Linked DNA regions of Homo sapiens. The gene in region 2 interacts genetically with the main gene of each other region. Each region holds a gene or a part of one and is shown on either strand. Other genes may lie near its edges. The genes, in order: NAA50 and CEP63.

The links.
Region 1: changes in CEP63 (region 2) and NAA50 together harm fitness more than expected from each alone (negative genetic interaction), as found in Homo sapiens cells (one large-scale study listed by BioGRID).

What each region holds. Positions count from the first base shown.
Region 1 is NC_000003.12:113,715,874-113,719,346, reverse strand, and holds the end of NAA50 (N-alpha-acetyltransferase 50), read left to right. Parts: 3' UTR 1-2,889; downstream 2,890-3,473. UniProt on the Homo sapiens protein: N-alpha-acetyltransferase that acetylates the N-terminus of proteins that retain their initiating methionine. Has a broad substrate specificity: able to acetylate the initiator methionine of most peptides, except for those with a proline in second position.
Region 2 is NC_000003.12:134,492,556-134,496,382, reverse strand, and holds part of CEP63 (centrosomal protein of 63 kDa), read right to left. Parts: intron 1,088-3,827; coding exon of another isoform or gene 1,063-1,087; coding exon 1,019-1,062; intron 1-1,018. UniProt on the Homo sapiens protein: Required for normal spindle assembly.

The DNA.
Region 1 (3,473 bases), about 21 Mb from region 2:
ACTGTGGGGCAAATAGGTTAAAATTACACTATGTTAGTTGCATTTAGGTTTTAAAGCAAAGAATCTGTAGAGAAATCTATGCAATATATAGTTTGTCCAGATTAGCTTTCATTTGGGGAATGAAGTTCTGAAATATCTAAAGCAGTTTACTCATCAATTGAAAAGTCCTCCAAAAAGAGAACTATTGGGAAACCATGGTGTGGTGGTGGAAAAGAAAAGCTCCCTCAGTTTTTTGGAGGGAATAACTTAAAAAAATACTTAAATGGCTAAGTTTACTTGGTGCAGTTAAGAATTAAACTTGTCAATTTTAACATTGCTGTTACATCTGAAATAAACTTATGTGATGTTCTGGTAGTGATCTGTGATATCTGTAAATGTCAAAACTGTATTGTTGAATTCTGCAGCCAGCAACCGTACATACTCATTGTGTAGTGTTTCCCTTACTGCTTTTATTTACTTTCACATTTAAGATCTAATTTTAAAATCATTAAAATAGGCCAAGTGTAATTAAGGCATCCTAATTCAGATCTTCTGTGACTTGCTAGGTACAGTGCCCAATATCTACAATTCAGTTCCAATGAGAGGGAAAAAGTAAGATCCAAGGAACTGTCTTGCTGCTGTATTTTTAATGTAATTATTAGAAATACTTGACACTTTAGGCTGCAATCTAGTTAGTAATGTTTATTGGCTACAGACAACATATTCAGGTGTTTTGTTTTTCTTCCTTGTAAGGAAGGAGTACGGTAGTTCAATGAGTTGGGAATTGGCTTTTAAGCTTTTTATCAAACATGAATTTAAGATTTTTTCTTTAACAGAATTCAGTATTTAATATTTCTAGTCAAAATTGTTATAATTAGATTTTTGCTTTTTTCATTTAAGAAGCAATGAGTGATCCTTGTCTAGTGTGTCTCAGTTATTACTGTAGTTTAAAACAACAAACAAGTATTACCTTCCACAGTTCTGGATCAGGAATCTAGGAGCTGCTTAACTGGGTGGTTCTGTCTTGAGATCTCAGAAGGTTGCAGTCAAGCTGTTAGCCAGGACTGTACCATCTTGAAGCTTGACAAGGCTAGAGGAGCCATTTCCAAGATGTCTTGCTTACGTGGCTCTTGGGCTTCTGTTCCTCACTGTGTGGGTATCACACACAGTGCCTGATGCTCACGTGGCTCTTGGGCTTCAGTTCCTTGGGCACCAGTTGCCTGGTGGACAACTGGTATGTGGCTTCCCCTAGAGCAGGTGATATAAGAAAGTGAGCAGAAACCATACTTTTTTATGACGTAGCCTCAGGTGACATTATTTCTGCCATATTCCATGAGTCACACAGACCAACCATTGAATCAGCTTGGTATAGTGTGGGAGGGGACTGCACAAGGATGTGAATACTGGGAGGTGGATATCATTGGGCCCTCTAGGAGACTGGCTATCACTGCTCAGAGAAGATGCTGGGCTTCGTTGACTCCCAAGGTCAGGGTAGTTTTGGTTAGGTTGTGTTTTATTAGTCTCTAAAAGGAGTAGTTTTCTAAATGAGGGTTATAAAGCACTGCACTTTACAGTTATTCGGGATATAAAAGAAATAGTGGGTCTAAAGGCTGTGCTCTTGTGGTTGGGTTTTCAGTGGGGAGGGGAGACTAGTCTGTCTCAGACTGATGCTGTTCTCACTGATTTGAATATTTCTGGGAAATTGGATACTACAGTCACAAATAGGAACAGTAAGCCTATAGAAGTTTTTCAGGGAGTAAATATTTTCTATGGCAGTGTCCTGAATTGGTTCTCCCTTGCAAGACTGAACTGTAGGAACTTAGTCCTAGTTTATGATACAGCCAAGTAACATAGTCACATGGGAAAAAGAGCTTGAGTCAGATTTCTTAATGTGTGTTGTTAACTTGGTAGAACATTGAGAATTATTTAAGTCAGAGAACGATCTGTTACTGGGGCAGAAATTCTCAACCTTTTCAGTTCTCCAAAATTTAAGATACTTGATTTCTTAGGTAAAATGTTTTTGTTTTTGTTTTGGAGACAGAGTCTCGCTCTGTCGCCCAGGCTGGAGTGCAGTGGCGCGATCTTGGCTCACTGCAAACTCCGCCTCCCAGATTCAAGCAATTCTGCCTGAGCCTCCCAAGTAGCTGCGACTAGAAAGCGCATGCCACCACGCCTGGCTAATTTTTTGTATTTTAGTAGAGATGGGGGTTTCACCGTGTTGCCCAGGCTGGTCTCAAACTCCTGAGCTTAGGCAATCCTCCTGGGGCAGCCTCCCAAAGTGCTAGGATTACAGGCGAGCCATGGCGCCTGGCCAGTAAAATGTTTTCTATCTAGAATGAATCAAGGTATTTTCCTTGCTCAGTAGCTTCTAGAATAAGAAAAAAATAGCAGCAAGATCTGATTCAGAAATAGTTGGGAGCAGAAAGTTAATATGAAGGAGTTGCTACTTGTTAACAGCCTAGAGTTGAGATCTAGAAGAATTATTACCTTTTTAAATTTGTGATGAAAGCTTAAATCCAGCATTTGGGAAGTTACTCTATTGGCTGAACTATTTTGGAGTTTGTAAGCTTTGTATTAGATATTCCTGATTTAACTGAAACTAATTTGCCACATAGCTTTAATTTCATCCCAGTTTTACTTGTTTTACTGTCCTCAAAAACTCAAGACATCTGAACTCAAAGGATCTAAGCAGTATAAATTAAAGCACATGTTGAATCACTGTAGCTTTCGTAGGACATCTGATTATAATGCTTTTCTTTGTTTCTTTGTCCATACTGAACTTGTCTAGTTTATCTTTGAGAAACATTTGCTAGTATCAAAAATCTTCTGTAAAGATTTGAACAATCTTGAATTCTCCTTGTCACTAGCCATCTCTTCCCCTAAAGTATAATAAAACTGTCAGGTACTATATGTGTAATTGCTTATGCAGGTGAAATTTGAATACACAAACAGTAAATCCCAGTTCTCTTAGTAAGATGAAGGCTTTGTTATAGCACCTTTAAAACAATTTTATAACATCCTTCATTCTTATCACTTTCCTAAGTAAGAAACGATCTTCCTTTAGTGGATATAAAAGTTGTACATTGTTTCTGCAGATTTACTGGGTGCCTACTATTCTGAACTCTAGGGATACAGCAGTGAGCAAGGCAAAAAATATCTGTGACTTCTTTAAATAAAGGTAAGTAAAATTCTAGTTTAAGCAGAATTCATGTCTAAGTGCAGGTCATCCTATTTACTAAAATGAATCAGCTCCTTCAAGGATCTTGATTTTACCTTAATTTTGAATTCCCTACATTGACTTGTTTTCTCTAACATTGGCTCCAGTACAAACAAAAAGCCTTAATTCCCATAGGAGAACTGAGACTTACAAGTGGGAAAGGGAGTGCAAAACAGATACAAGTTCAGAATTTATACAGCAGAAACAATCTAACATTGTAGAGGTTCTTTTTTTTTTTTTCTTTTTCTTTTTGAGACGGAGTCTTTCATTCTATCAC
Region 2 (3,827 bases):
AATGTTTACACTGCAACATTTACATATATTAATACACTATTATGTATGGTTTGCAATACTGACTGACTTGTGGAGAGGCTTGAGCCTGTATGCCCATGGCTCTGACTATTGAGTGAACTGGTAGTACTAGGGGGAAATGCCTCCTTGGGAACTCCATGTAGCTTGTGGCTTTTATGACTGAAATAGCATCAATAAAAGTTTGCTCTTGTAGAAAAGACACAAACATGTATGGACCTGGTTATGTCTGACTTTGCACCACTCACAACACATATGATTCAGAAAGCACACTATTGGGTAATCTATCCAAAGGAAAGGAAATCAGTATGTGAAAGGGATACTTGTACCCCCATGTTTATTGCAGCATTATTCACAATAACCAAGATATGGAATTGACTTGAGTGTCCAACAGCAGATTAATGGATAAAGAAAATGTCAGAAATATATCCATCATGGAATACTATTCAGCCATAAAAAAGAATGAAGCCCTGTTATTTGCAGCAACATGGATAAAACTGGTGGTCGTTAAGTGAAATAATAGGCACAGAAAGACAAATATCTCATGTTCTCATTCATATGTGGGGTCTAAAAAAGTTCACCTCATGGAGGTAGAGAGTAGAACGATGGTTACCAGAGGCTGGGAAGGGGTTGGGGGTGAAGAATGTTTGGTTAATGGGTACAAACCATACAGTTAGGTAGAAGAGTAAGCTCTAGTGTTAAATAGCACAGTAAGGTGACTACTAAGTAACTAGTATGTAACTAGTTAAGTAATTAGCACAGTCGGGTGACTAGCACAGTAAGGTTCCTTAAACTTTAAAAATTTACTATATATTTCAAAGTAGCTAGAAGAATTGAAATGTTCCCAACACAAAAAATGATAAATGCTTGAGCTGATAGGTATACTAAATACCCTTATTTGATCATTACACATTATATGTATGTATCAAAGTATCATGTGAACCCTATAAATATGTAATCATGTATTAACCAAAAAAATTAATTTTAAAAAAAGCAAACTTACCCACCATGCCCTCGATTTTGTATTCCTTCTAACAAAGCCTCCATCACCAAATCCCCTTTGTTTTGGCAACTGACAAAGAAAAAAATATCAGTCATGAGACAATTCATTTCTTCAGTTCTAACATTCTAACTTACAACTTAAGAATGTGAATGAAAGCATACATAATAATGAAAAAATGCAGCACTTCTTAAGATGACTGTAGAAGCAGTCAAAGAACATCACTTCAGGAATACTAGGAACAAACTATTTCGGACTAAAACAGAATAACTTAAAAATATCTGAATTGCGGTTGACACTCTCTCCGTGTAAATATCAAATATCTCATTGTTCTTTGCCTAATTCCTAATGTCGGGTGAGCAGGGGTGGAGGTGGGATCTCTCTAGCAGACGGATACACAAACTCCCTTAACAAAATGAGAAAGAAATGGGTTCACACATGTCAGAGGGAAAGTATAGCTTTTTAAAAATTAAAGAGATAGTATAAAAAATGCGAAGTGTACTGAGATTAAACTCTTTGGTCTATCATGGGAAAGCCTACTCACTCCTGAAGACAGGCTCATAGAGCTTCCTGCATGCAACATCCTCTCTCCACCGAAAGGCAGCCACAGGGCCCTCCCACCTCTGCACTTCATTTGCTCCCAGTGCTTAATACGTTCTTTCATAGGAGTTGCACCACACTGGAAGTGAGTTTTTTACATACTATTTTTCCTTACTAGACTATTCATCCCTCCAGGGCAGAAACCCAATTTTATTCATCTCTGCAGCTGCAGAGCTCAACGCAGCATTTCAACATGGCACGTGGCAGATTATTTTGGCTGAACTTAACTCCCCTCCCTCTTTTACCTACCCTCTCCCCCATGCAAACTGGTCACAGCTGGGGAACTACATGAAGGGTCTAGCAGAGAAAGAGGGAACGGGAGATAGAAGACTGCCATATAAACAGCAAGATACAGTTGGGTGCGGTGGCTCACGCCTGTAATCCTAGAACTTGGGAGGCCGAGGGAGGCGGATCACCTGAGGTCAGGAGTTTGAGACCAGCCTGGCCAACATGGTAAAACTCCGCCTCTACCAAAAAAAAAAAAAATTAGCTGGGCATGGTGGCATGCACCTGTAGTTCCAGCCATGGGGAGGCTGAGGTAGGAAAATCGCTTGAAGTCGGGAGGCGGAGGTTGCAGTGATCCGAGATCACACCATTGCACTACAGCCTGGGTGGCAGACAGAGATTCCATCTCAAATAAATAAATAAATAAATAAATAAATAAATAAATAAATATAAAATAAAGGGTAAGATACACCATGAAGAAAGGTGACAGTGAGAAAGGAAAGAGGACCCTTAAACTCAGTAGTGTTGATTAATATGTGTATGCTTCTCGCCTTTTATAATAAATCTTCAAAATGTTCAATGTCAAACCACTTTTCATTCCAAAATGCTTTTTCCTTAAACCCTTAAGACAATAACCAGACTGTGGTGTAGAGGTTCTGCCCCTGGGCTAATCCTCATCTAAAAATTATACTGCTGTAAGAAGTAGATTATTTTACTCAACACGTAATTCAATGTTGTACTAACAACTAGATATATAGTGATGAAAGATATGGCCCCTTTCAAGGTATTAATAGTCTAGTATGGGACAGAAAAAAATGAGCCAAAAAGGCTTTCCCAGTGTGATAAATATAGTGAGAGACATGCCCAGGGTGTTCCAGAGACACAGAGGAGAATGAGAAGACTGGAAAATAGAACCACTGCACCTTATTTGCATCTATTTTTAAAGATACTAACAAACTGAGTATTAAATTATTTGTGCACAAACGTGACAGGGAGGATTTTTTTTCTAGTTGGTTTATCCTACATATTACACCAAAATTGCAAAAATAAAAACCTAAAGAAAAAGGTTCCCATGTTTTACTCCACTTTCAAATCACAATACAGTCCAACTACAATGCAACCAAGATTCCATGTTTTGGTCCACTCTAGGAGAACTGGGAGGCAGTACACGGTCCACACCACACTAGATGGAGACCCAGGATACAGTCCTACTCTGCAACTAACTAGCTTTATATTCTCGGACTTGTTTTAACATCTGCAAAATGAGGGGCATGAACAATATTCTCTAAGGTTTCTTCCAGCTTTTTCATGGGTTCTAACAGCCAATTAAATGTCCACTGTAAGTAGCATGCTCCTGACAACCATACACGGATACTTAACTAACATGTAGGAAAGTGCTATTCTTATTGACAGTGCTATCACAGTTATTCAAAATTATCATTAGTAAAATTATACTTATTTAGGTCATGTTATTCTTAAACATTAATATATTTAGTAATATACATTAATATATTTTCTATGACTATTTAATAATATACTTAGAAGTTAAGTTACTGAATGTTCAACAGCTGCCTTGTACACATTGTCTAAATCAATCTTCACTATACTCATAAAAGACAGATACTATTACTTTGAGAAAACAGGCTTAGAGAGTTAAATAACTTGACTATGATAAACTAAAAATTATAGTCCTGGATTCAACCTAGACATTGTGGCAATCAATTGAGTCACAATCGATGTGCAACCTTTATATATTTTACAGTATTCTATATCTTAAAATATATCAGCCTATCTTTTGGCTTAATAGTGTCTTTGCAATAAAAAAAGAAATTAAACTGAAGTATGACATCACTACTGTGGCCACCAGGTGGCAGCAGCACAATAATGAAATAGTCACATAAGAAATATTGCTATTTTAGAAATCAAAATGGTCTAAGATAGAGATTCCTGTTTAAAAAAAAAAAAAAAAAGGAGGGAAGTGGACCAG